Homo sapiens: one gene and its partner. The protein of the gene in region 1 interacts with the protein of each later gene in a pairwise test. Each region holds a gene or a part of one and is shown on either strand. Other genes may lie near its edges. The genes, in order: GKAP1 and SH3BP4.

What was found.
Region 2: the proteins of GKAP1 (region 1) and SH3BP4 interact in a two-hybrid assay, tested with the Homo sapiens proteins (one study listed by BioGRID and IntAct).

What each region holds. Positions count from the first base shown.
Region 1 is NC_000009.12:83,812,997-83,824,444, reverse strand, and holds the start of GKAP1 (G kinase-anchoring protein 1), read left to right. Parts: upstream 1-6,675; 5' UTR 6,676-6,928; intron 6,929-6,961; exon of another isoform or gene 6,962-7,213; intron 7,214-7,317; 5' UTR 7,318-7,449; intron 7,450-8,428; exon of another isoform or gene 8,429-8,519; intron 8,520-11,448. UniProt on the Homo sapiens protein: Regulates insulin-dependent IRS1 tyrosine phosphorylation in adipocytes by modulating the availability of IRS1 to IR tyrosine kinase. Its association with IRS1 is required for insulin-induced translocation of SLC2A4 to the cell membrane.
Region 2 is NC_000002.12:235,035,876-235,046,426, forward strand, and holds part of SH3BP4 (SH3 domain-binding protein 4), read left to right. Parts: intron 1-5,012; coding exon 5,013-7,372; intron 7,373-10,551. UniProt on the Homo sapiens protein: May function in transferrin receptor internalization at the plasma membrane through a cargo-specific control of clathrin-mediated endocytosis.

The DNA of each region.
Region 1 (11,448 bases):
TAGTTCAACCATTGTGGAGGACAATGTGGCAATTCCTCAAGGATCTAGAACTAGATATACCATTTGACCCAGCAATCCCATTATTGGGTATATACCCAGAGGATTATAAATCATGCTACTATAAAGACACACAAACATGTATGTTTATTGTGGCATTATTCACGATAGCAAAGACTTAGAATCAACCCAAATGTCTATCAGTGATAGACTGGATTAAGAAAATGTGGCACATATACACCATGGAATACTATGCAGCCATAAAAAGGATGAGTTCATGTCCTTTGCAGGGACATGAATGAAGTTGGAAACCATCATTCTCAGCAAACTATCACAAGGACAGAAAACCAAACACTGCACGTTCTCACTCATAGATGGGAATTGAACAATGAGAACATTTGGACACAGGGCGAGGAACATCACACACTGGCACCTGTGGGGAGGGATAGCATTCGGAGGTATACCTAATGTAAATGACGAGTTGATGGGTGCAGCAAACCAACATGGCACATGTATACCTATGTATCAAACCTGCACATTGTGCACATGTACCCTAAACTTAAAGTATAATAATAATAATAATAATAAAGATCCTCCTGCCTCAGCCTCCCAAGTAGCTGGGACTACAGGCATGAGCCATGATGCCCAGATATCACCTCATTCTTAAATGTGGTGAACAGTTGATGATCTCCATTTATTTGAAGAAACCTCCTTACATAAAAGACAGAATCTACAATGAACAAACAAGAAAAGAAAAAAAAGCTTTAGAGGCCAGTTGTGGTGTAATCCCTGCACTTTGGGAGGCCAAGGTGGGTGGGTCACCAGAGGTCAGGAGTTCGAGACCAGCCTGGCCAACATGGTGAAACCCCATCTCTACTAAAAATACAAAAAAGTAGCTGCGCGTGGTGGCACACACTTGTAATCCCAGCTACTTGGGAGGCTGAAGCCGGAGAATTGCTTGAACACAGGAGGCAGAGGTTGCAGTGAGCTGAGGTCATGCCACTACACTCCAGCCTGGGAAACGAGTGAAACTCCGTCTCTAAAAAGAAAAAAAAAAAAAGAAATTGGAGGAAATAAAAGCAGTACAGAAAGCCAGAAAACATGTCAAAATCAAGAAATTCTCAAAAATTTTAACTTCCATATACTCTTCTCACTCAGGAAACTGCTGGAAGGAGCACTCCATCCAAGTAAAGGCGTATATCAAGAAACAGAAAAACATGTGGCTGGGCACAGTGGCTCACACCTGTAATCTCAGAACTTTGGGAGGCTGAGGCAGGTGGATCACTTTAGGCCAGAAGTTTGAGACCAGCCTGGCCAATATGGTGAAACCTCATGTTTACCAAAAATACAAAAAAAAAAAAAAAATAGCCGATATGGTGGCACATGCCTGTAATCCCAACTACTTGAGAGGTGGAGGCAGGAGAATCACTTGAACCTGAGAGGCGGAGGCTGCAGTGAGCTGAGATTATGCCTCTGTACTCCAGCCTGGGTGACAGAGTGAGAGTCCGTCTCAAAAAAGAGAAAAAGAGAAACAGAAAAACATGGGATCTGGTAAACCAGAACTCCAACAAAGCAGAAAACAAAGAGAATTCTCTAGACAAGCTTTTCCAACCTGTGGTGTGTGGCCCAGGATGACTTTGAATGTGGCCCATCACAAATTTGTAAACTTTCTTAAAACATACTTTTTTGTGATTTTTTTTTAGCTCATCAGCTATTGTTAGTGTATTTTATTGTGGTCCAAGACAATTCTTCTTCCAGTGTGGCCCAGGAAAGCCAAAAGATTGGACACTCCTGCCCTAGATGAAGGTGATGGGAGGTTCCAGGAAGTCAGCTGTGTAGCAGGCCTGGAGAGCACACTAGAGGATGGAAGTGTCTAGAAGGGATGTCTCCAAGAAAAGAAAATGGAAATGATGGATTACCTAATATGTCTGAAACTTTTGAACAAAATTTCACAACTCTGGTGGAAAATACGGAGATGTAATGGTGATAGATATAGAGAAAACTAAGCAACCACCAGGTGTGGTGGCTCACATCTGTAATCCCAACATTTTGGGAACTGAGGCAGGGGGATGGCTTGAGCTCAGGAGTTTTGAGACCAGGCCAGGCAACATTGTGAGACTTTGTCTCTACCTTAAGAAAAAAAAAAAAATTAGCCAGGAGTACTGGTGCACATCTGTAGTCCCAGCTACTCAGGAGGCTGAGGTGGGAGCCTGGGAGATTGAGGCTGCAGTGGGCTATCATCGCGTCACTGCACTCCAGCCTTAGTGAAAGAATGAGATCCAGTCTCAGAAAAATGAGAGAGAGAGAGATAAAACTAAGCAACTTAAGAAAGAAGGAAGAGCCAGGCGCAGTGGCTCATGCCTGTAATCCCAGCACTTTGGGAGGCCGAGGCAGGCAGAGCACGAGGTCGGGAGATCAAGACCATCCTGGCTAACACGGTGAAACCTGTCTCTACTAAAAATACAAAAAATTAGCCAGGTGTGGTGGTGGGCACCTGTAGTCCCAGCTACTCGGGAGGCTGAGGCAGGAGAATCGCTTGAACCAGGGAGGCGGAAGTTGCAGTGAGCCGAGACTGCACCACTGCACTCTGGTCTGGTTGACCGGGCAAGACTCCATCTCAAAAATAATAATAATTTTAATTTTTGTGCATACACAGTAGATGTATATATTTATGGGGTATATGAGATGTTCTGATACAAGCATGCAATGTGTAATAATCACATCATGTAAAACAGAGTATCTAGCTCTTTATAACCGAGGTTTTTAATGTAGATTTTGAACATTCACTGTGCATTGTTTGATGTGGCAGAGCTAGCATCTGTAGATGTATCTACTTGAAATACACGTTGGAGGTAGGACAGAGTAGTCTATGACAAGTTTTAAAGCACTGTCATTTAAATTGGAAAACCTGGCATGTGTCTGGTGTTTAATACAGACAGATGGGCATTTCCTGTAAAAGAAGGCAGTTACCATCGTAATTTGAGAGGTCAGAGAGAAGCAATTAGAAATCTCACTTTAGCAACATAAAACGTAAAAGCATCTGTTTAATGAAATGTGATATTTGCAAGAGTTTAACATATTAAACCACTGATGTCCCTGTGCAGCCTAATTTGAAGAATTCAACCCCTCACTCATAGATTAAAGATTTTAGTACTAGGGCTACTATCACTCTCTCCAAAACTACTCACTACTACAACACTACTGTGGAATCACTCTTGCGGTAATTCTTTGTGAGGGGTATGTGTATATATGTATGTATGTATGTATAACAGATATATATAACTATGTGGATGTTCATTTCAAAATCCTTACTGTGTCTCAATTCCTTGACCTCCCTTCAAAGGATCTCGTACCCTCTGGTACCTCAATTATCCATTCTCATATGCATTCCTTACACTGTAATATTACTGGTAACTACAGGTCCTCCTCTAATTTAATTCAAGCCTCCACTCTCCAACCACCTCTTATCGTTCCAAGGTCATTGCATATAGTAACTAAACTTCAACAATTCTTCAACCTCATCAAAAACACCAATTCAGTCACTCTACCGTCTTTCCACCATTCTTCACTCCTCTCATAGCTTTACTTCTTACCACTTCTGAAATTATAAGGCCTCCTTTGCCTCTATCAACACCAACTCTGCCCTTATCTTCCCCTTATACTTGCCTGGTCAAATCTCAGTCCTGGTTACTGCCAAAACTGCCTACTCAGTGCCTGCACATGAGCAACTGAATATGGCTAGAGAAAATTGCATAACCAAGTGGCTAGCCTCACTATAAATTCATGACCACTTATTCAATGGGGCTCTTAGTAATGCCTGGAAACTTTACCATGTTCTTTAGTCAGTTCACTCTCCCTCACTCATAAACTCTGATTTCACCTCCCTTCTCTCTTTTTTTCTCAATACTTTCCGTTAAGGACTACATTACCTAGAGTAGGCTAAACTGCTATAAAAAATAGACTGCAAAATGTTATGGCTCCAACTCAATAGAAATATATCTTGCTCACATAATTGGGTGTCCAGGTCAGTGGGTAGCTCTCCTTCATCCAGGCACCTTCTTTCTTGTGGCTCTGCCAACCCCAGAGGTTTGTGGTCATCTGCATAATTGAATCAGAGTCACCGTGTCCAGGGTCCAGCTGGCAGAAAGGAAAATGCATGAAAGAGGCACAAGTACTCTCAAAGTAAACGCCTTGGCCTGACAGTGGCAGACATAACATCTGCTCACGTTCTATAACTTAATACTTGACCATATGCAACTGAAAGAGAGGCTGAGAAAAGCAGTCTGTGTTTTCAGGGAGAAAGGGAGACTAAATTGTGATGGACAATTAGCAGTCTGCCAAAATGATCTTGCTCCTCACTTTGCTGAGAAAATAGAAGCAACTGGAAGAGAACTACTTTCTCCCACTGTCCAATCTATCTACTTATCTCGACATGTCCCATACACGTGGGAACTGGGGAAGATGGGATGGATCCCTAGACTAAACTTGACCAGAAAGGGGATCTTTCTTCCCAGGCTTTCAATAAGAACAATGTGGTCTCAAAGACCCTACTACCTAATCACAAAGTGCAAACATACCTTCTTTCCTTGTGCTTTTCAACCTCTGTGGTTTTGGATATTGTTGAGCAACACTCCTTCCAGCCCTGTTTTTGTGAAACTCCAATTTACCTTGTCTTGATGATTCTGCGTTACCCTATTCTCCTCCCATTTTCTGCTCCATCCCCTTTCTTTGCTGGCTTGGCTCACCTAGATCAGAGCTTCTCAAACTTTTTGATGTGACACAAATCTCTTCGGGTTCTTGTTAAGTTGAAGATGCTGGTTCAGCAGGTCTGGGGTGGAGCCTGAGATTCTGAGTTTCTAACTAACATCCTCATGTCAGTGCTGCTGGGCCACTGACCACGTTTTGAGTAGCGAGACTCTAAAGAGGGTGTTTTCCAAGATTCTGACCTTTGTTTTCTTCTTTTATCTCACAGCAATATCACTCCTAGGCTGATTATTTATGAGTCTATTTTCTAGTTCAGTCCTCTTTCCCATATTACAAAACCTTTATTTCTAACTTATTAGTGTCCATGTCTCTCTGGCTGTCTTGACAACCCTTTGAATTCTTAAAATGTCCAAATCTAAACTGATCTCTCAAGAAGTAGCTCCCTCTCCTTTGTAATTGTCTCTTTTCTCTCTTGCAATTATCTACAAACTCAAAACCTCCACTTTCTTTGATTTCTCTCTTCCTACCCACAATTAATCAATCAGTTGCCAAATTCTATAGATACTGCATGCACATCATCTCTCAACTATGCTCTTTTAAATTCCCCTAGCTGTCCCTTTAGGTCAGACTCATCATTTTTACCTGGCCTACAGTAGATCTGTCCGTTTTTCCACCTCTGATTTCTGCTTCCCCTCACAGATAAATCACTAGCACAAAGAAAAAAAAAAACCTTCCTTTTCTTCCCCCAAACTTCTGAACCATAAAAACTCAAAATACTGAATTAAATATAAATTCATCCATTTGGTATCTTAGGCCCCATACTCCTTTGTCTTTTCTACCTCTCAACATACCCTGGAGTCTTTGCTCTTTCCCCAACACAACTTTCACTGATTCGCCTTCATATATATTCTCATGCTATCCCTGCTTGCTGTAAAACTCTCCCTGTCTCCTTCAAGGTCAATCCCAAATGCCTACTCCTTCATGCTGCCTTTCTTTCCTTATCCCCAAGACAGATATACACGGTTCTTTGATTCCCGGCAGTACTCTGCCACTTTTCACGTGGCACCTATCATGGTTTGTCTTTTATTGTCTGTTTTATCTTTGTTTTATTCCTTACTTCTTTGAAGGCAAAGGTATCTTCAACTCCCCTCTAACTCTGAAGCATCTTACCTGTGGGGCGTCTAATATTAGTTGAATCATGGGGATTTATGGAGATAATGTGATGCGCTGGTAAGCTAACAGAATTGGAAGCCAGTACAGCTGGGTGCCGGCTCTGCCGTTTATTAGCTGTGAGGTTTTGGGTAAGTCACTTAACTTCGCCTGTAAAATTAGTCCACTACGACCTGATGGAGAACCAAGGGAGATAACGTTAAAGCGCCCTGCAACTCTACAGGGAACTGAGCAATGTTAGTTATTTTCCTTACAGAGATCTGATGCACTCTTGCTACTGGAATCTTGACTTGCAGGACCATCCCTACTTCATTGCCTGGAGGTCGAACCCCAAGTTGCAGGGAACCCAAGCTACCAGGTCCCACTGCCCTTTTCCACTCCAGGGCCCTCTAACCGCTCTCCGCGTCGCAGGTGATCCTGCCTTGCTGCGGGGGAGTGGCCTAGAGTCTCACTCCCTCGGGAGGCCTCCCTCCTTCCACCCGCTTGAGGAGAGCCCTTCTCTTCCCTGTGACCCCGAAGACCGTGGCGCCGCCGCCTACGTGAGGCGTTTGGACCCTGCCCGGCCCCCGTAGCTCCCCTTCTCCAGCAGGTGGTTCTGGTCCTCTCCCCCAACTCGGGCGCTCACGTCACCGGCGAACCTCTAACCAGCGCCAGCGCCGCTACCAACCGCGAAAATAAACAAACCCCCGCGCTCGGCGGACGCGCCAGGCCCCGCCCCCGCCCCCGCCCCCGCCCCGAGGCTCTCACGCCGCCTCCTCCGCCCGGGCTTCCCTCCACCCTCCGCCCGCCCGCCTGCTCTCAGCCGCGCTCTCCCCGCCCCTCACCGCAGCCTGCAGCCGCGCTCACCTCCGCGGTCCGCCCCGGCGCCCCGGGACCCGTTAGTGCCCAGCCTGTGGGCCGACCGCGACCCCCGCCCGGCGCGAGCCTGCCCCCAGCTCTGCCGACACTTGACCCAGACCAGTCCCAACGCCCAGTGCGGCCGCCCGGGGAGCCGCGGGAGAGGCGGCGGCGGGGGGAGGAGGGAGAGGAGGGCCGAGCCGGCGGCACGGGAGGCCCGGTGAGTACGCGGAGGCGGGCCCGCCTCGCGGGTGTCCGCTCCGGCACCCCGGAGGCGTAGGCAGCGGCTCGACAGCGCTCCCCTCGGCGCCCCGGCCTCGGGTGGCGGGGACTCGGCCTGAGGCGACGGGCCCCACTGACCGGAGCCGCTGGGCAGAGGGCACGGGAGGGCCGCGGCCCGACGCTCGGCGCAAGGCTCGGGGCGGCGGGGAGGGACTCGCACCCGACTCCCAGGCCGGCGACCGCTGAGCCTCCCGAGACCCCGTGGGGGCCGCTCGAGTGACAGGTGCCACCGTCCCCTCCCCGCCGCTGGCGCCCGCGCTCCCTCCCGGGGAGCCGGGCGCTCGGAAATTTCTGGAGCAACGACCTGACTCGTTTTCTCCCTTTCAGGTTTTGAAGCCGCTTCTCTGCCCGAGTTAGGTTTCGCCCAGCGCAATTTCTTTCTCTATGTACTTTGCGAATAAGTTTCGGAGCATCGGTTAACAGCCTATGGGTGAAATTTGGCTTTCATTCATGAATGAGGTATAGTGAATTACTTTTTGAATATAGTGCTCCTCCTCCTCCCCCGCCAGCTATTGAAAAGTGATTTTTTTTTCTGTTATTGTTTGGAACAGCCTTACCGAATTTTTGTCAGATCTCTAGCATTAAGGTGCTTCATAAATATTGAACAGTAACGACAAAAATAGTTTATCAAATTGGCTGATTGCCTTTTCTCTTCCTCCTCTTTTTCACTCTTTACCTTCGCCAGATTTTTCAGAGTAGATGCAAGTGCTTTCATTAGAAGAACTAATGAAAGATCGTCTGTCTTACACTAAAAAGCCGGAGACACTTTTCTTCACCATTTAGCATTGTCTGTTGTGTAGTAAATGTGCTTGGGATTGTAACTGGAATCATTTAATAAATGTGACTTGTAGCTATAAAAATATTTGAGAAGCTTTTTGGCAAATTAAAATATTAAAAATCTTCATAGAAGTCTAGATTTCTTTTCTCAACAGATTTATAACACTATAGTAGCTTCAATTCTGGAGTAAGAGCAAAACCCAGAAGTTGACCAAAAGAACCTTGTGTGAAAATAGATGTATTTTACTCGTGGGAGAATCCCTCAGGTCCTCACTGAGTACCTGCTTGTATTTTTTGTTTAACTTTCTTGGCCTGCAGAAAGTGGGAGCTGCAGATTGGAGAGGGATCTCAGTACTTAACTATGAGAAAAAAATGGAGTTTGGGGCATACCCATTGGGTTTACATCACTTACAGTAAGTGTGTTTGGAGCAGAGTTTTAGTATGCACTTCACACTTGCTGATTGTGAACCCTATTTTTTTTTTTTCTTGAGGCGGAATTTTGCTCTTGTTGCCCAGGCTGGAGTGTAATGGCGCGATCTCGGCTCACAGCACCTTCTGCCTTCCAGGTTCAAGCAGCTCTCCTGCCTCAGCCTCCTGAGTAGCTGGGATTACAGGCGCCTGGCTAATTTTTTTTTTTTTTTTTTTTGTATTTTTAATACAGACGGTGTTTCGCCTTGTTGGCCAGGCTGGTCTGGAACTCCTGACCTCGTGATCTGCCCACCTCTGCCTCCCAAAGTGCTGGGATTACAAGTGTGAGCCACCACACCTGGCCTGTGAACCCTAATTTTTAAGAAGCCAAAGTGAAAGATACTGTTTGGTTATCTGAAGAACAGAACATGAAATAACACAATTTTTTATTTCACCAGGTGTTAAATCAGTGATACTTGGTGCCATTTCATATTACGCTCAGTTAATTTCGATCTAAGTTATATTTCAGTGAGGCCACACTAATTGGCATCTACATTAATACCTTTTTTTGGTCAGGCTAATTGGTAGTGTTAATAGAAGATGGCTATCATTCATCTCATAAAAAGTAATATATTTGGTTGTTCTTGATTTAAGGATTTTATATGTATAATTGTGTGTGTGTGTGTGTGTGTGTGTTTTCTGAAGTTCCCTAATTGTGGTCTTCTGGACTGAGATATGGCTGCTGCTGTCTTGATTCTAGTGAGGTCATAGTGTAGAGGGATAAGGTCATAATGGCAATGTGCCTCCAAACCTTGATAGAGGCCAAGACTACCAGCCACTTAGGAATTCTTCTGCTTGGGTCGGGCTTGGTGGTGCATGCCTGTAATCCCAGCCCTTTGGGAGGCCGAGGCTGGAGGATTGCTTGAGCTCAGGAGTTTGAGATCAGCCTGGGCAACATAGTGAGACCCCATGTATACACAAAGAGAAAAAAAAAATTCTCCTGCTTGTAGCTTAGGCTATTCATTTTTAGAAGCAGTTTACTTAAGCAGCCAATGCATCCTAGTTCTCTTAAATTAACACTTTAGTTTTTCATTTTTTTGAGACAGTCTCTCGCTCTGTTGCCAGGCTGGAATGTGGTGGCGCAGTCTTGGCTCACTGCAACCTCTACCTCCCTGGTTCAAGCGATTCTCCTGCCTCAGCCTCCCGAGTAGCTGGGACTACAGGCGTGCGCCACCATGCCCAGCTAGTTTTTGTATTTTTAGTAGAGATGGGGTTTCACTACGTTGGCCAGGATGGTCTCGATCTCTTGACCTTGTGATCCACCCGCCTTGGCCTCCCAAAGTGCTGGGATTACAGGCGTGAGCCACCATGCCCGGCTGGCTTAAATCAACACTTTAAAACCAGATATGCTTCCTAGACAAAATTGGTTGTGGCAATTAGTTTGTTAGAATAGTACTTACCGTAATGAAACAACTTTGAACTGCTAATAATTGCTCATGCACATCTGCGTTATGGGAATTGAGGATTGTCTATTGTGCACTTCACATATTTCTTTTTCTACTTGTAGAGCACATTTTTCACTGCATAGACAGCTGTGTACTTGAAGAATGTAAACATGAAGAAAACACTAAGTTCAATAAATGTGTCTTCTATGTGCCAGATCCTGTGGTATTTGTAAGGGATAGAAACTCTTGTCTTTCAGGATCTTGAAATCAGGATCATAGGGGCTAGGCACAACAATAAAGAGAATTTTTTTGGAGTCCATTCAATAATAGTAAGTTTAAAGTATGGAAATATTACAGAGGAGGGAATGTTTAACTTCAGGAACAGGTCAGAGAACGCTTCATAGATATGCTAGCACCTGAGCAGGATTTTGAGGAATAAATGGAAGTTTTCAGTGGAAGAGATAGATGGCATTGTAGACAAAAGAGAACAGCATAGTTAAAGATATGAACAAGTAAACTAATTGTGTGTTCAAGAAATTTCAAGTTGTTTTTTCTTGGAGTACATGCAAAATCTGAAGAAAGAGGGTTGCTAGAGAAAGCCCTAACGCATGCTATTACATTTAATAAGTCAAATAATTGGCTTTTTGGGTATGAAGTATATGTAAAATAAAGACTTTGTTATATTTTTGACATTGCTGCCATCTTTTTTTTTTCTTTTTCTTCTTTGACAAAGGGTCTCAGGCTGTAACCCAAGGTGTAGTGCAGTGGCACAATCACTGCTCACTACAGCCTCGACCCCCAGGCTCAGGTGATCCTACCACCTTAGCCTCCCAAGTAGCTGGGACCACAGTCATGCACCACTATGCCTGCTAACTGTTGTACATTTTGTAGAGAAGGGGTTTTGCCATGTTTCCCTAGCTGATCTTGAACTCCTGGGCTCAAGCAATCTGCCCACCTCAGCCCTTCCAAAGTACCAGGATTACAGGTGTGAACCACCATGTGTGGCCTGCTGCCATCTTAAGTATAAATTAATAGTTTGTACTAGTGGTAGTCATTACATTATGGAAGATAGTAGAAGATATATTTATTTATGGTGAACTGCCTGCATATTGAGAATGTGTGTTTATTTCACATTTTGCCCTGAAACATTTCTGTTTTTAAAATTATCGTGTGAATTTATTTTGTCTTCCTTCAACTATACATTATCCTTGAAATTAGTTTTATCATTTATTTTATGAGATACGGTTTTGCTATGTTGCCTGGGCTGGTCCCAAACTCCTGGACTTAAGTGATCTCCTGCTTCAGTCTCCCAAGTTGCTGAAATTACAGGTGTGCACCACTGAGCCCAGATATCCTTGAAATTATTTTTAAAAGGAACTCAAAGGGAGGAGGGGAAAAATATAAATAAAATAATCATTAGATTTCTGCACCAAAAACCTGATTTGTGTAGTAGTTTAATAATATGTAAATGTTTAATATACAGTATTAGCCACCATATTCATAGACTAATTTAAGTAACTTAATTGGCAGTCCATTGTATTTTCATTTGCATTGTATGGCTTAATTATATTATGTGTATATAAATGTCTAAGCATAGAAGCATCTAAATTTTAAAGACCAAGTGTATTTGAAGGAGAAAAAGTATAGAGAGGGAGGGAGAAGAGCTGTGTTTGAATCTATTTATCCTAACATCTCTTAGATGTGACTGTATGTGGAGATGCAGAAGTTTAGGACACAAGACTGAAGGAATACTAACCCTAGCCATGACCTGAAATATAGTATCTTTTAAAAGCCTAATGTTTTCCTAGTCTCCCTATTTGTTTCTTCT
Region 2 (10,551 bases), on another chromosome or scaffold:
TTTGGGGCTTGGCAGTTGCGGTGACAGCACCATCATCATCAATATCATCATCCCTTGGCTTTCTCTTAGCTGTTGAAACTGTCTTGCCTGGAGCACAGCTGAAAAGTAGGAACTTGACTTTGACCATTTGTATCCTCGGCCCCAGCCTAAAGTCAGTGCTAAGTAAATGTTTCTTGAACTAAACTGCTATCCCCCAGATAAAGTTGTAATCCTCTACCCTGATGTACAAAAATTATATGCACTGTGTTTATGTCTGTCTAATTGAGTAGCTTCTCCTTCCCCTTTATCCCAAACATCTTCTCCCTGCCTCTGATTGATGCTGGCATCCCTGGGCATTGCTGTAAATGTTCTTTAAAAGAAACGTCTAGCCCGTGTGAGATTTTATTTGTAAGAGAGCAACAGTGATTGGGTGTTGCCATAAATAACTGAAGCATTTATTTTTCAGATTCTGTTAATGGACATTTTGTTTTTTACTTTATAGCCCAACTCATCAGAGTCAAAGCTGGAACTTGTGAGCATAAATTGTGTGATTTGGGCAGAGTGTTAAAGTGAGGAGGGCAGAGTCTTAAAGTGAGGTGAATTTTTAAAAATGTCAGTGGGCTGGGCGCGGTGGCTCACGCCTGTAATCCCAGCACTTTAGGAGGCCGAGGCAGGCGGATCACGAGGTCAGGAGTTCGAGACCAGCCTGGCCAACATGGTGAAACCCCGTCTCTACTAAAAATACAAAAAATTAGCCAGGCATGGTGGAGCGTGCCTGTAATCCCAGCTACTCAGGAGGCTGAGGCAGGAGAATCACTTGAACCCAGGAGGCAGAGGTTGCAGTGAGCCGAGATCACACCACTGCACTCTGAGACTCTATATAAAAAATAATAATAATAATAATGACAGTGCTCTGGAGGAAATATTGGCTGTTATCCCTAAAAGAATCCCTAATTTAGAGGAGGAAGACAAACAAGACAGCCTTGAACGTGAGGAGGAGGACAGCCTCAAACATGAAGGGGAGGGTGTTTTGAGAATCTGAGGTGGACAGAACCATGGGATCTCTGGCCTTGCCCAGAGATTCTGGGGAATCTACCTCCGAGGCGCCACATGTGACCCAGGCAGTTTGCTAGCCAGAAGCTTCACGCACATCCCAGTGATAGACAGACTTCAAGGTGGGAATTTATTTCAGCCAAAGTATCTGCCATGAAACCTTCTACTCTGATGAATGTTTTGCCTGCAGAAGAACGTAGGCAGACGGATAGGAAATGTATTATTCAGTACATTGAACTTCCTAACACCCAGGGAGATTTTTGTATTAAAATCAAGGTGGCTGTGAATCTGGGTAACACTCCTCAGAATTCATTAAGATAGAATTCGTTAGGGATTCTCTGGCATTTGATGGGATGGAAGCCCTTCCCCAGTGTCCCCAGCTGCTTGGTGGCAGTTGACTGATGGAGGGCCTCATCTAGAAGGGGGAATCACACAACAGTCCACCTCCCTAGGGTTCTGGAAAGGAAGAGTGGGGTGATTTCCCTTGGCTAAGCCTGATCCCTTGAGTGAGATCTGTGACCATTTCTCTTCCAAGGAGAGTGCTGGGAATTTTAAGTAAAACCATTCTTATTCTTCAGTTGGATAAAACTGAATGATAATTCTCATTGATACATTCTAGGCTATGCACAAAGCATTCTTGATTGCTTTGGTTTCTTAATTTTGAAACTACTGTAAGGGAATTATTCTGAGGGAGCATAATAAGGACATAACCTTTGAGGGATTCTAGCAAGATTTTGATGGCCGGCAAGCTCTATTTAATTTTCATTTAGTTTTCATCTTTATGTGACATTTCCAGTAGATTGTGTCAAGGAGATAAAATGGTTTATATTCCTGGAGATCATGACTAGCAAAACAGAAATGAGAGAGAAGAGCTTCTGTATCCTCTGGCCTCAGCCTGACCCACATCAATTCTTCCCACCTCTCCATGAAAGCCATTTTCTTTCACAGGTTTTGGTTCACTCCCATCTCATATTAAATAATTTGTTGGTTTTATGATTTTTTTAGAGCACAAGGGCACAGCCAGGGGGAATTCAGACACTGCTTTCACCAACACCAGGATCCAATAGCATAGATTATGGCTTCTCTGTGTCGTTTACGCATGCACGATGATCATTCATTCCACAAATACTCATTGAGTCCCCGCTACGCGCCAGGCCTTGTACGAGGCCCAGGGATACAACAGCAAACAAAACAGGCTCTAATGGTGCTGATACCCTAATGGGGAGATGGAGGCTCCTCCTGCAAAAGAAACACACATACACACACACATACACATATTTCATATATATATACACATATATATAATATATATATAAAGGATATATGTATTTTATATATATATTATATATAATATATATTATATATAATATATATTATATATAATATATATATTATATATATATATTATATATTATATATATATTATATATAGTATATATATTTTATATATATATATATAATATATATACATATATATATATATATATATATATATATATATATATATATGAGGTATGTAGAGAAGGAAAAATTCTTAGTTCTTGGCTTGGGCCCCTATAACAAAAGACATTAATAAGAGAAAAGCATGCAAACTTACTTAATATATGTTATATGTATATTACAGATATATAATTTCTTCATAAGGAAATGAAGACTTAAAGAAGTAATTAAACCTGAGGGATTTGATGAGGTGTGGAGAGTCCTGGAAAAATGAGATGGGACAAGAAAAAGCATAAGCAAGTGTCATGAGCTGGAGGACAGCAAGGCCTGGGCATTGCAGATTCCCTGTGTCCTTGGAGATAGGATGCTCTGTCCCCCACATATAGGGAGGGCCCCTCCCACTTGAGGGTCTATGACCTGCTTCAGGGGGCAGGCAGGGAGTCCTGCCTGCACCTGCGGTTTCTCAAATTCCTCCAGCTTAAAATATGTGTGGTGCTATATTTTGGGGTAGCATGTTCTGAACCTCATCAGGTACATGATGTAGTGGTTGGTGGTAAGAGCTATGGAAAAAGATAACATTGGGGCCAGGAGATGTCTATTTCACATAACATCCTGTGTGTCCTCAAGTTGGGTCAAGCAATATTATGACAAGTGCCTTATCTACGTCTTTGCATTTTGTCCTCTCCAAAGCTCATTGAGGAAATACACTTTTTGTCCACCATGAGTGGAGTCTTAGGCTCTGGAGATCACACAGTTTCTAAGGGCTCCACTCGAGTCTGGGTTTAGTGATCCCAGAGCCGGGTTCTCTGAGACACCCAGATAGACGGGCCTGCTGTAATTTCACAGGAGGAGGTAGGTGGGGCTTCAAGGCCCAGGGATGCTCCCAGCTAAGCGCATCTCTGTAACCCAGTTAATGTAAATGAATAGAAACTGTCTACCTGATTTCCTAACACTTTCCCAAGGAAGTGTGATTATTTCCTTTCAAAGGAAAAGGAAACTGGCAGGTGATTTTCTGGGGTCGGGGGGGCAATTTGATAGAATACGATGACTGTGGACTTCATCACATTAGAAAAGATGTAGGTTTAGTTTAACTAAAAACGGATTCCTTTCTTTGGTCATTTGCTTTGGCAACTTAAAAAAAAAAAAGAAAGAAAGAAAGAAAGAAACGTTTCCTTTCTTTCTTTCAATTGTTTATTACGGGAAGCCAGAATGTCAGCAGACTCCGTAAGTGAGGCAGTTTGGGAGGTGGGGGAGGGGAGTCCTGGGGAGAAGTATATGTGCTTATTTTCTTCAGAAAGAGTGTTCTTCATCTTCTGAATATATCTTCTCATTTAATCATATCCATTATTTTTCAAAACACACCACTTGTTTGGCTGACTTATTTTTGCTGTTTCATTTGCCGTCTACATTGGTAACATACAGAGTTCAATGGCAGGAGCCATGAATTAACTTGATTCACTTTTTGAAGGGTTGGAATTTTTCAGACTGCTTCAACACTTGTTCAATGATAGTATGAGCTATGACTAGGCATAATCTCTCATTTTCAAGGTATGTAGACAGTCTGTTTTCATGTTGTGATTTTGAATGATAATTTAAAAGAGGTTGGGCCAGGCGCAGTGGCTCACACCAGTAATCCCATCATTTTGGGAGGCTGAGGCGGGAGGATCACTTGAGGTCAGGAGTTTGAGACCAGCCTGGTCAACATGATGAAACCCCATTTCTACTAAAAATACAAAAATTAGCCAGGCATGGTGGCACACACCTGTAATCTCAGCTACTTTGGAGGCTGAGGCAGGAGAATCACTTGAATCTGAGCGGCTGAGGTTGCAGTGAGCTGAGATCATGTCAATACATGCCAGCCTGGGTGGCGGAGTGAGACACTGTCTCATAAATAAATAAATAAATAAGTAAAATAAGAATAAAAGAGGTTGGAAGGAACTGACTTCAGAATTCTTACTTTATCTGAGGAAACAGTTTGGTGAGGAACAGGTTGAGTTTGGAAATTTAAGAAGCAGGTTGAGGGAAGCTTTCCATCCAGAGGCAGAGCTTGGAATCAGCTCATACATGTCATTGCGGGAGTTTTTGGAATCTGTTCATTTCCAGTCCCTGATCACATGCAGTGGTCACCTAACTCACCGTGTCACCGTGTTTTCTAAGTTAATCACATTCAGTTTCTCTTTGTATCTAGTAGCAGTTCTTTTAAGAAGAATTTTAACGTTGCCCAAAATGAGATGTTTAGGGCGTAGGGCATGTTAAATATTCCATTGCACTGATTTGCCTTTCTGTGAGTGATGGAGAGGCTCCTCTGTGGTCTTTCTGCCGGACATAGGCTGTCGATTTTGAAGGTGACCAAGTAGCAGGAACCAGTTCGTTGGCCAGGTAAATTACCTACTGAATTTCACTTTGGTTTGTTTCTGTTGGTGACTTGCCTGGGTTATTGTGCACCTGTCTGTTTACCACCGTCCTCTCTCCTTTGGGAAGCTCTCCGGACACCCCGCCGGCCTTGCCCTCACCATCTGTTTTCTTTGTGTTTTGCACAGTGCCTTCTCCCAGTGCCTTGCTCGTAGACAACCCCACACCTTTCGGAAATGCAAAGGAAGTGATTGCGATCAAGGACTATTGCCCCACCAACTTCACCACACTGAAGTTCTCCAAGGGCGACCATCTCTACGTCTTGGACACATCTGGCGGTGAGTGGTGGTACGCACACAACACCACCGAAATGGGCTACATCCCCTCCTCCTATGTGCAGCCCTTGAACTACCGGAACTCAACACTGAGTGACAGCGGTATGATTGATAATCTTCCAGACAGCCCAGACGAGGTAGCCAAGGAGCTGGAGCTGCTCGGGGGATGGACAGATGACAAAAAAGTACCAGGCAGAATGTACAGTAATAACCCTTTCTGGAATGGGGTCCAGACCAATCCATTTCTGAATGGGAACGTGCCCGTCATGCCCAGCCTGGATGAGCTGAATCCCAAAAGTACTGTGGATTTGCTCCTTTTTGACGCAGGTACATCCTCCTTCACCGAATCCAGCTCAGCCACCACGAATAGCACTGGCAACATCTTCGATGAGCTTCCAGTCACAAACGGACTCCACGCAGAGCCGCCGGTCAGGCGGGACAACCCCTTCTTCAGAAGCAAGCGCTCCTACAGTCTCTCGGAACTCTCCGTCCTCCAAGCCAAGTCCGATGCTCCCACATCGTCGAGTTTCTTCACCGGCTTGAAATCACCTGCCCCCGAGCAATTTCAGAGCCGGGAGGATTTTCGAACTGCCTGGCTAAACCACAGGAAGCTGGCCCGGTCTTGCCACGACCTGGACTTGCTTGGCCAAAGCCCTGGTTGGGGCCAGACCCAAGCCGTGGAGACAAACATCGTGTGCAAGCTGGATAGCTCCGGGGGTGCTGTCCAGCTTCCTGACACCAGCATCAGCATCCACGTGCCCGAGGGCCACGTCGCCCCTGGGGAGACCCAGCAGATCTCCATGAAAGCCCTGCTGGACCCCCCGCTGGAGCTCAACAGTGACAGGTCCTGCAGCATCAGCCCTGTGCTGGAGGTCAAGCTGAGCAACCTGGAGGTGAAAACCTCTATCATCTTGGAGATGAAAGTGTCAGCCGAGATAAAAAATGACCTTTTTAGCAAAAGCACAGTGGGCCTCCAGTGCCTGAGGAGCGACTCGAAGGAAGGGCCATATGTCTCCGTCCCGCTCAACTGCAGCTGTGGGGACACGGTCCAGGCACAGCTGCACAACCTGGAGCCCTGTATGTACGTGGCTGTCGTGGCCCATGGCCCAAGCATCCTCTACCCTTCCACCGTGTGGGACTTCATCAATAAAAAAGTCACAGTGGGTCTCTACGGCCCTAAACACATCCACCCATCCTTCAAGACGGTAGTGACCATTTTTGGGCATGACTGTGCCCCAAAGACGCTCCTGGTCAGCGAGGTCACACGCCAGGCACCCAACCCTGCCCCGGTGGCCCTGCAGCTGTGGGGGAAGCACCAGTTCGTTTTGTCCAGGCCCCAGGATCTCAAGGTCTGTATGTTTTCCAATATGACGAATTACGAGGTCAAAGCCAGCGAGCAGGCCAAAGTGGTGCGAGGATTCCAGCTGAAGCTGGGCAAGGTGAGCCGCCTGATCTTCCCCATCACCTCCCAGAACCCCAACGAGCTCTCTGACTTCACGCTGCGGGTTCAGGTGAAGGACGACCAGGAGGCCATCCTCACCCAGTTTTGTGTCCAGACTCCTCAGCCACCCCCTAAAAGTGCCATCAAGCCTTCCGGGCAAAGGAGGTTTCTCAAGAAGAACGAAGTCGGGAAAATCATCCTGTCCCCGTTTGCCACCACTACAAAGTACCCGACTTTCCAGGACCGCCCGGTGTCCAGCCTCAAGTTTGGTAAGTTGCTCAAGACTGTGGTGCGGCAGAACAAGAACCACTACCTGCTGGAGTACAAGAAGGGCGACGGGATCGCCCTGCTCAGCGAGGAGCGGGTCAGGCTCCGGGGCCAGCTGTGGACCAAGGAGTGGTACATCGGCTACTACCAGGGCAGGGTGGGCCTCGTGCACACCAAGAACGTGCTGGTGGTCGGCAGGGCCCGGCCCAGCCTGTGCTCGGGCCCCGAGCTGAGCACCTCGGTGCTGCTGGAGCAGATCCTGCGGCCCTGCAAATTCCTCACGTACATCTATGCCTCCGTGAGGACCCTGCTCATGGAGAACATCAGCAGCTGGCGCTCCTTCGCTGACGCCCTGGGCTACGTGAACCTGCCGCTCACCTTTTTCTGCCGGGCAGAGCTGGATAGTGAGCCCGAGCGGGTGGCGTCCGTCCTAGAAAAGCTGAAGGAGGACTGTAACAACACTGAGAACAAAGAACGGAAGTCCTTCCAGAAGGAGCTTGTGATGGTGAGTGCTCAGCAGGTGCCTGGGCGTTCAGGGGTGCTGCTCAGCAAAGCCTTTCCGCCTTCCCAGTGCACATGGGCGTGGGCCGTGGTGTCGTAAGTCACCAGGACAGTGTCTGTGGCTGATGTCCCGCTGCCTGAGATAGGTGCGGCTCAGCACAGCCTTTCGCCTTCCCAATATGCGTGGGCGTGGGCCGTGGTGTTGTAAGTCACCAGGACAGTGTCTGTGGCTGATGTCCCGCTGCCTGAGATAGGTGCGGCTCAGCACAGCCTTTCGCCTTCCCAATATGCGTGGGCGTGGGCCGTGGTGTTGTAAGTCACCAGGACAGTGTCTGTGGCTGATGTCCCGCTGCCTGAGATAGGTGCGGCTCAGCACAGCCTTTCGCCTTCCCAATATGCGTGGGCGTGGGCCGTGGTGTTGTAAGTCACCAGGACAGTGTCTGTGGCTGATGTCCCGCTGCCTGAGATAGGTGCGGCTCAGCACAGCCTTTCGCCTTCCCAATATGCGTGGGCGTGGGCCGTGGTGTTGTAAGTCACCAGGACAGTGTCTGTGGCTGATGTCCCGCTGCCTGGGATATACGTGTGGGGCTTGAAGTGTGCTTGAAGTGGAGATGGGGTTTACGGGGGATCCTGGGGGGCCCCAGACAACCCAAGGACCCTGCAAAGAAGAGCATTCCAGTTACTTTTCCCACCGAATCTGTGAGCTCCAAGAGGGTCCCAGAATGGACCAGATGCGGGTGGGGGCAGAAGGCGGCCTGTGCTCTCGCCATTCAGTTTAGATCTCTTGGGAGCAGATGTGGTTCGTTAGATTCCCAACAGGGTCTCTGACTCCAGAGTCCCACGAACCGCTGCCCCAAAGCCTGTGTTCATTGTAATGTGAGTTTTTCTTGCCTTTGCTTCCTTGAAGCTTCTAACATCTCTGTATTGTTTCCACTTCCCCCTCTGTGTTGGTTTGAGTTGGGGCGAGGACAGCATTTGTTTTGCCAGCACAACCGTGAACTGGAATCCAAAGAAATAAAAGGGGGAAGTAAGCATCAGACTGTGGGTTACGCCCTGGCCCACGAGCCAACCGGGGAGCATTTGCTCAACGCTTTCTTAGCACTGCTCCCCGCAGGCAGCCCCACCGTCAGCAGAGCTGGGTCCTGGCGGTTACCTTGGCTAGGCTTAGCCATATCCGTGTCCTGGCATCCCCAGGGGTGTTTGTGGTGGAGAGTCCCTGTGGACTTCTCCCTGTGATAGAACGGAGTCCACCCCTATCCTCCGGAGAGGGGCGCATTGCTGGTGTTCATTCCTGTGGGAAAACCCTGTGACCTTGGCGTGTGCCGCTCTTCCTCGTTCCTCTGAGCCCGCAGGCTTTCTTGCATCCTAGCTTCTGAGAGGCGTGCTTCTTGGTGCCCGGCCTTTCTGCCACCTCCCCGGCTCCCCTGGATTGAGCCCTGTTTGTCTGGGAGAGCCCAGAGTGTCCTGTAGACACAGGTGTGCAGGCAAGGGTCACATGTGGCACATACCCGGCTCGGCTGCCCATGTTGAGCCAGGAGACAGAAGGGACGCAGCCCGGCAGGAGTGGGGCAGGAGTCGGGTGAGACCCTCTCTGGGTGGCCTGCAGTCGTGTGCAGTGCCAGAAGCATGGAGCCACGAGATTGCCCAGGGGAGGGAGATGGAACTGGAAGCGGCCGTCAGGGGGGCCACCTTGGCAACCAGGAAATCACTGCACTTGGGTGGGGAGGAAGCGAACAAACGCAGCAGGGAAGCCTCCGGGCCCCCATGTGGGGTCACCTGCAGGGAGGGGATGGCCTGCGTCCCTCCCATCAGCCATCACCCATGTGTGATTCAGAGCACACCTCCTGGCTCTCCAGAACCTGGTGCCGGGCCGTGGCCTGGTCTCCTCACGGGTGCACCCAGCACAGTGGCAGACAAAGCGCCTCCATCCCGTGAGAGCCTCTGTGCGGGCGGCCCCGAGACCACAGCCGTGGCTGTGCATGCTGTCGTGGAACCTGACAGCATTGCTGAGCCCAGGACACTCACCTCGACGTTGCACCAGAGGTGGAAAAATGACACAACCAGGAGTACCACACCAGCTGTGGAAAATAACCGCCGAGTAGGTGGCTTTTACACTCATTTTCCTGCTTTTTTATCTTTTTCCAAAAGACATAAATGATCAAACTCTCTCAATTCGATTGGTGAGCATCTCTGGGAGGGGATTTTTTGGTGGGCCTCCCTGTCCGCTCCAGGGAGGGGTGTGTCCTCTGTGCCCGAGTCCTTCCGCTACCCAGAAAGGAGGAAGTGAAACTTGCCCTTGGCCAGGTCGGCTCCCTGAGGCAAGGTTAGATTTTGTGGTGATAAAGTGAAACTGGTTTTGCAGTGTCCCCACCCGCCCCCCACACCTGTGTCAGTCATCATCTTGGCCAAACTTATAGAAACCACAGACGGATTTCTCCCAGGTCGTTTATTAGGAGACCCTGAAAACTGGCTGTTCTATTCCGCTTGTCATCACAGGGCTGCCACGATTTCTGCGGCCTCTGCCACCGCTTTACCTGCCCCTCCCAGAGAGTCACAGCCAGGCCACCCCCTGCCTCTCATTTTTAGCATAGCTTTCGGTGTCCTTGTTCTGATGCCTTGGGTTGGAAACAGTGTTTAAATGATGGGGAAAATGTGAGAGTTTGAGACAGTCAGTGTGCAGGGAGATGGGAAGGAAAAAGGAGTCAAATGAGACCTGGGTTGTTCCTCTCTCCACTGCCTTTAGAACGGGGTCAGCCTTTGCCCCTGCCCCACAAAGTCGTGTAAGATCTGGCCCTACCCATCCCAACCCTGGGGGCCACTGTGCTCTGTGCACCCCTGCCCTGAACACACCCAGCTCGCCCGGCCTCCAGCTCCTGCAGATGCTATGCTGTTCCTCTTCCTGGAGCTCCCTTTCCCAGACCTCCTCATCTCCCTCAGCTGCCAGCTCAAATGCCGTCTCTCCAGGACGTCCTTCTCTGCAGCCCCGCGCACTCCATCATCCTCTGTCTCCATGGTGTTTCTTGAATCAGAAGCGGTTTGTTTTGGCCAGGCATGGAGGTTCACACCTGTAATACCAGCACTTTGGGAGGCTGAGACAGGAGAATCGCTTGAGCCCGGGAATTCAAGACCAGCCTGAGCAACATAGTGAGGCTTCATCTCTCCAATTTTTTTTTTTTAAATCAG